2 linked regions of the Homo sapiens genome follow. The protein of the gene in region 2 interacts with the protein of the main gene of each other region in a pairwise test. Each region holds a gene or a part of one and is shown on either strand. Other genes may lie near its edges.

What was found. The genes of interacting proteins can lie anywhere in the genome.
Region 1: the proteins of MEPE (region 2) and ZXDC interact in binary tests that used the Homo sapiens proteins (3 or more experiments, as listed by UniProt).

The regions. Positions count from the first base shown.
Region 1 is NC_000003.12:126,462,252-126,466,000, forward strand, and holds part of ZXDC (zinc finger protein ZXDC), read right to left. Parts: intron 1-3,749. UniProt on the Homo sapiens protein: Cooperates with CIITA to promote transcription of MHC class I and MHC class II genes.
Region 2 is NC_000004.12:87,835,950-87,839,698, reverse strand, and holds part of MEPE (matrix extracellular phosphoglycoprotein isoform a precursor), read right to left. Parts: intron 1,068-3,749; coding exon 1,014-1,067; intron 15-1,013; coding exon of another isoform or gene 1-14. UniProt on the Homo sapiens protein: Promotes renal phosphate excretion and inhibits intestinal phosphate absorption. Promotes bone mineralization by osteoblasts and cartilage mineralization by chondrocytes.

The sequences.
Region 1 (3,749 bases), on a different chromosome or scaffold from region 2:
TTATGACCTTGAAGACTGAGTACTTTTGTTTATGCCCATGATGTTACCGAGTGATGCCCCAAGGAAGCACTGACTGTCCTCTTCCCACACCCTGAAGCTTGGTTATCACGACAGAGTCCCATGGCCGGTCGCTCAGGGCAACCGACACACACCCCAGGAAGGGACAGGAAGGGACACTGGCTGAAATCAGACACTTTACGTACGCGTCTTGGATCCTCAGGCTGACAGGGCTTTCTCCAGGGGAAACAACTGGAGAGAGATTAAATAACATTTCCTAAGGTCAGGCCAACTGGTAACAGCAAGAAGCAAAGTAAGACTTGCATCCATGTCTTTCTGGCTTCAAAGCCTGCACCCTCTCCCCTCTAGGTGCCACCGGAGCTGCCCGAGAGGACTGAACCTTTCCACTCAGCTGCCAGTTGCTAGCTGGCCTGTGCTCTGAGGATATTTTCCGAATCAGCTTGTCAGCTCATGTTTGCCAAACTCTGTGCTCCACTCCACAACTAGCTGCCACCCCAAAACCGACTGGAGCCATATAGGGGTGAACAAAGGAAATAAAACTGGCTGCCTGGCAAAGCCAGGACAGACCCAAAGCTTCAGCTCTAGGCAGATGCACAAGACTTCCAGGCATGCTGGGGGCCCCCTAGACGGAGCTTTTCCTGATGGGCTTTCCCTCCCACAGCCTCCCCTACCACTGCATCTCCAGCCTCACATTTCCCCAGCAGGACTGCAAGCCTCCTGAGGGTGGAGAGCCATCTGACCACCACTGTCCCCTCAGCCCCCAGCACAGTGCCCAGCCCTGATGCAGCATGTAATTATTATTATTATTATTTTTTTTGAGAGGGAGTCTCGCTCTGTCGCCCAGGCTGGAGTGCAGTGGCGCGATCTCGGCTCACTGCAAGCTCCGCCTCCCGGGTTCACCCCGTTCTCTTGCCTCAGCTCCCCGAGTAACTGGGACTACAGGCACCCGCCACTATGCCCGGCTAATTTTTTTGTGTTTTTAGTAGAGACGGGGTTTCACCGCATTAGCCAGGATGGTCTCGATCTCCTGACCTCGTGATCGGCCCGCCTGGGCCTCCCAAAGTGCTGGGATTACAGGTATGAGCCACCACGCCTGCAGCATGTCATGATTCTAACAGGCCCTTCTTCATCTGGAGTCTTAATTTCTGGTCATAATACTCTTTAAATATTTGATTATTTGTTATTCAACTACGTAATTTAAATAATCAGCATACTTTTGGGGGAATAATGACTTCCAAAAAATTTTAATGCATAGGCAAGTTTAGGGTTTGTATACAAGTACATGCCAATTACACCAAATCACAGGATGCTTCAAGCATCAAGCAAACAGTAAAATGGGAGCATAATTAATTTGGGCAAAAGAGCCAAATAAGGACTTGATGTCACGCTTTCCATAGGACTGTCCCCAGCAGCTTCCTGACTGTGCCAGCACCTGGCCCAGAGGAAAAGCTGCTCTCGGTTCTCTGATCCTATTTCTCCCATGCCAGCTGTTACTGTTCCCAAGCTCATACCTGCAGGCTGTGAACACCTGGCCAGAATGTCTATTATATTTTATATTTTTAATAATGCAAATCTACAAAAGAAGTCTATTCTAGACAAAAAGAAAATCAAATTCAGAATGTATCCTCTTTAGTTGTCATATTACTTTAAAGATTAAAAAAAGTATCAATATAGTATCACTTCTTCAATAAATATCCCTTAGTACCAATGAAGCATTTTGAAAGAAAATGGTAGTGATCCTTTGGAGAAATTAAAAATGGAAAACTATGTCAGTTTTTCAAAACTTCCTAAAAATTCCCTTGACTCTCTTGAGGACTCAGCTCCCTGTGAAGAGATCATGAATAATCTCAGTGCAAATGATACCCACTTATTAATAAATTTCTTACTTAGCACTTTACTAATTCTATAAACATTTACTACCAGAGACCAGACATGTACAAGGGCCAGATATTAACACAATCACTAAATAAACATTAGATAGCAGAGCATCTGGCAAAACAGTCATGATCACCACAGTTCAAAGCCCAGCCCCAGCCCTTCTTGCAGGTGTGACCCTGGCAAGTCCTTTCTATCTTGGTTTCATCAGTGACAAAGCAGTGAGGAACCCACTCCCAGGACCACCATTAGGGGGACTGAAACAACCCATTGAGGGCGTGACATAATCCCACGGTAACTGGGTGTTCTCGAGTGCCTGTTTTTCACTAGACGAAAGGGTGACACCTGGTCTTCTACCCCTGACAGCTGGCAGGGGGATGACACACAAATAAGTCATTGTCACACAGGAAATTCAATCCTGGGATACATAGGTTGCTACAGAAGAGGGTCTCACATCCCACTAGAGTTTAAGGAAAGTGCATCTAGTATAACACTGGGCCTCTGCAGACTTCTCAATTGGCCAGGTCAGGAAAGGGGAAGTGTGCCATGAGAGGGAACGGCCAAACAGGGGAGAGGCCTAAGTGATGTAGTCTCACAGAGCCCTCAGAGAAAAGGGGCCTGGTCATGTGGGCCTCTGTGAGCAAAGGTGACACCCTCCAACATGAATCAGGTGGCACGCACATTCCGTGTCCTCAAGACACTACTAAAGCCAGAAGGGCAATTTATTTAAATATAAAGCTGAACGGCAACTGCTGTAAACTGTGAAAGATCAGTGTCCAAGATCCCAAGGAGGGGCTTCATGACCACTTCTAAATAGGATCACAAGAAAGCAAAGGCCACAGAACTGCCCTGAGCCCAACCCCTCACCAAACTCTGTGCGAGGCATGGAGGCCTGTCCCTTGCCAACGCGGCAGCTGTGACACAGCTGCGCCCCAAAGCCGGTGCTCTGCTGTGGTGCTGCTGGTCACACAGGAGACGTGAGGACCCAGTTGGTGACACACACAGCCTCCACGGACTGAGCAGCAGAAGTAACTCTAGGGCCAGCTAGGATGCCATCAGCCAGGCCCGGTGAGGAGCGACAACCGCACCAGGGCCCAGAGAATAGGGCACATGGGTGTGCTCCCCAGAGGGGCCGCCACCACAGCTGCCAGGCACTTCTGTATCCTGGACTGTGGAGAAGGCCTAGTGGGGTAGGTTTCCTAGTCCCATGCTGCAAAGCTGCCCAATGACTAGGCACTCACACACTCAGCATTCCCCTCACAGGTCACCAGGCCACCGTCACTTTCCTCTCTAACCCTGCCCTCTCCAGCCCTCGTTACTCCCAGTCCACTCCTGAAACACAACTCTGCTCTAGCCTTTGTTACTTGGAGATAGAATAGCTGAGGCAGACGGAAACACAGGAGGGGCAGGTTCAGAATTCAGGACAAAAGTCCCAGTGAGAGACACAGGCTTAGGGGACATATGCTAGGGAAAGTCAACAAAGTGAAACATTCTTCCAGGAAAGCATTTCAAAGACATGGGAGGGGCAGGGCATGGTGGCTCATGCCTGTAATCCCAGCACTTTGGGAGGCTGAGGTGGGCAGACTGCTTAAGGCCAGCAGTTCAAAACCAGCCTGAGCAACATAGTGAAACCCTGTCTCTATAAAAAATGCAAAAATTAGCTGGGCATGGTGGTGGATGCCTGTGGGCTCAGCTACTCTGGAGACTGGGGTGGGAGGATCACTTGAGCAGGAGCCTGAGGTTGCAGTGAGCCATGATCACACCACTGCACTCCAGTCAGGGTGACAGAGAGGGACCCTGTCTCAAAAAACAAAAGACATGGGAGGGATTAGAGGGTCAAAGGCAAGAAAGTGGCA
Region 2 (3,749 bases):
CCCTTGTATGTTATCTACAAAAACACAACATTATATTGAGGCACGTTTTATCTCTTACAAAGAAGTTTTTGGGCTCTTTGTAATAATATAAGAAACTTTAAAAGTTGGGTGAAGTTGAATTCTACCTCTGACAAATGGTAGTACTTCTTATAACCACAGGAGGGTGTGTGTCAGCCGGCTCCCGAAGACAGCAACTTGTTCCTTCTCTTTTCTACATAACTCTAAATCTGTTTTCCCTAAGGGCCTGTCAACTGCTTTCTGTCCTAGGGTGGATCGATTTTATTACCAAACGTCTATGGAAATGGAGCATGTGGAAATATTTTCAGGTGGGAGGGGGTGAGAGGACCAGGAGAAAGACAGGATTTACAATATTCATGTCTGATGTCTAATTGGCAAAACTCACAGCATGAACATTCAGGCTCTTAAGCTGGCAACGTTGGCCTTTGTAATTTTCAGCTGAGATGAAGTACAGAAGATTGTTAGTTCTTAGAACATAATTTTCTGTGATAGGCAGAAGCAAGCTGCAATTTGGTGGCATGCAAAGCGGGGAGGATTCATTTAACTGGATGCATATGGAAAGCTGACTCCACGGACATAGAATTCCCCATTCAGATCTGATAGCCACCTTCCCCTTTACTCCCTTATTTATCATTCTGAGAGCAAAGTGTTTGTCAGGTACATGTGTGGGAAAATATTGTTTGCTAGTAGCAATGTTCCCAAATTCTTACTCACTTAGCCCCATGAAGGTTGCCTGGCAAAGCATTGTTTCATTTGAAGGAAGAAATCATACTGGGGAGAAATAAATCTCTATTCACAATGTTTTCCTCTTTTCTGTCACACATGGTGTGTGAGTTACAATACCTGATTGACTAGAAAGTGCCAACATTATGTTGTATATTTTTTCACTTCCATTCAAAGTGCCCAAGACTATTTTGACAGTTACACTTTTCTCTTACTGACTTTTTCTTTATAGAGCTGAAATAGAGTTATTTGAAAAGATGAATTCTGTTTACCCTCTGCTCTTCCACACAGCTTTGCTTAGTTTTCTCAGTCTGTGGTTGAAATGTCTGAAAGGAAACAAGAAACAAAACTTCACCCACTAGAACATTCTATTTCATTAACTTCTTCAAACAAATGTTTCATTTATTTTTCTCTCACTGAGTTGTATTATTCACTGTGGAAAATCATTCTAACCAAAAGAAGATTGACACACTCATCGCATTAATATAATATTTGTTTCAATATTACGAAAGACAGTGCCAGCTTTCTGCCCCCAGAGGGAGACAGTGCCGTCTCCACTACAGAACTGGATTCAAGCTCAGACAACCGCTAAGTGGGTGTGGTGGGGGAGTAGGGAGGGATGGCACCCCAGACGAAGGAGCTTGGCTGCCATCAGAATCCACTGAAAAAGAAGTTTTCACTGGCAAACTGGGAGTTGTTAAATATAAGTGAACTAAAATCAGAGTTTGACGATTTAAATTGTGTGTGTGCATTAATTATATAAGTTGAGTAACTGTAATATTGAATTAAGATATGATGCTGCTGATGGCCCAGGGAGAGTCAAACCATAGCCGTTCATGTGAATGGTAGGATCGCAATTAAGGACAAAAACTTATTGCTGCCAGATGTTACATTCTGAGAAGGAAAAATGGAGGTGGCCAGCAGATTAGGATAAATTCTGTTTCTTGGTTTGACATAAAGTGTCAAAATTTCTTGAGGGTAGCGTAGGGTGAGGGGTAGCTATTGAAGCGCAGAAAGGGCAGAAATGAAGAAAGAACAGACCTCGGCAGTTTGTCCCAGTCCTTTGGGCTGAAGTTTGCATACCACAGGAAAGCACACAGAACAGGGACCCTAAAATCTGAGAGCAACTGTTTTATTAAAGGAATAGATGTAAGTTCTTTAATTCTCAGTATTTTTCATTTACCTCTTTCTTTCAGAAACTCCTAGCCTATCTCAGATGTGGCACTGGGAACCAATGGGCGGACTGGGCCGTGTTTGAATGGGTGTGCTACAGTGGAAGCAGGCATCATGGTGGATCAATCATATAAAAGAGAGAACCCCTTAAGGGAAAGATTGAATAAAGAGATAAACAGAAAGAGGGCCGCCTAGGCCAGCTGTCCTATTTACCTGGAAAGTGTTCTTCCTGAAGAAGCCTTAAGCTTCTATATTTTGTTTAATACAGACAGGTTGTTGCTTGCACTAAGATATTGGGAATGCCCCTGCTTGCTCTCAGCTCCTTTGTATCTCCAGCTCAATCTGAACTGATTCCTTCATTTCCCAAGCTCATTTGCCCTCTGTGTTCAGACTGGGTTTGGGTGAAGGAGGCCTGGCATGAGTCTGGAGGGGGGGAAGGAGAGAGAAGCCAGGGTATGTCCTTCTCTACTCTCCGTGTTTGGGGCTGCATCTCTAGAGTTGGGTACATCTCCTTTGTGGTCCTAGTTCCCCCAGCCAGGGGCCTAGGAGCAGCACCTTTTTTTTTCCTTCCAGCCCTAAGCCTGGTAATAGCTTCGATCCTTGGGTGGTCTCACCACCCCTGGTTGGCTTTTCTGTTCTTCCTTATACTTTATAGCTAGCTTCCCTTAGAAAGTCGCTCTACTGAGCTCCCTGTAGTGGATTTTGTTTTCTGGACTGGACTCTGGCAGATAAAATCATCTTCAAAATATAAAACTCAGAAGTTTAGAAAGCACCTCCATGGCTGGACTCCAAGGCATAGCTGCCTAATATTCAATTCCATTCTAGAAAATAACAATAGTTTATCAATAACACCTTCTATTTATAGGACTCTTTATAGTTTGTAAACTGCTTTTGTACTTATAATCTCATATGAGTCCCAAAGTAACCTTTATAAGATGAGCAGTAGAAGAAACAGAAGTGCCTACACTCATAGTTGGTAGTTGCAGTAGAAGTAGAGAAGATATTTTAATTTAAATCTTCTGCCTCAAAGTCCCAGGGTTAAAATAATAAATTTTTGAATGATTAAATATGAAAAAGCATTTAGTAATAAGAGGAAATGTTCCTAAACTTTATATTAATTATCGTCAAGGCATCTTTTATAGTTTTATCCTTTATTGCATTTCTTATGTTGATTCTTATATGATCATGTGAATATAAATTTGGACAATTATATCACTCTTCAAAAATATAAAACCAGGGCAAACAGTTCTGGAAATTGGACTATAGGAAGAAGAAAGCATAAAAATGAGATGGGCAGATATTAAGCAAAAGAAAGAAATGATAGTATGGGGTGTCAGGGATCTTCTTACAGAACACACACACACACACACATATGGATTAGAAACATACTTGACAATATAGAGTACCTCGGTACAGTTTTGATTTATTGTGACTTATAACAAAGTCTTTCTAGTCTAACTGCATCTTGATGAATATTAACCGAATTGCATAGCCTAATAAACATTCATTTTCTTCCTTTTAAAAATCATTTAGAATTTGGCTTATAATTCTAAGACGTATGCAAGTGGCTGAGTATATACTAATTTCTTAAGCCACCAATCTATCATTTAAAAATTCAGGTAATTACTAAAATGGCATCTATATACCTGGAAGAAAACATCATATTTAATGATTCACAGTTACAAATGTTGCCTCTGCATCCTTGCTGAGCTGCTTTCATTTGAAATACGCATCCCTCCCTTGTCCCCTCTATACCCCCAAGCAGATGTCTTAGGCTTGAATGTGGCCCTGTAATGGAGATGGCATTGTCTGCCTCTGGGCAGGAAAGCTGGCAT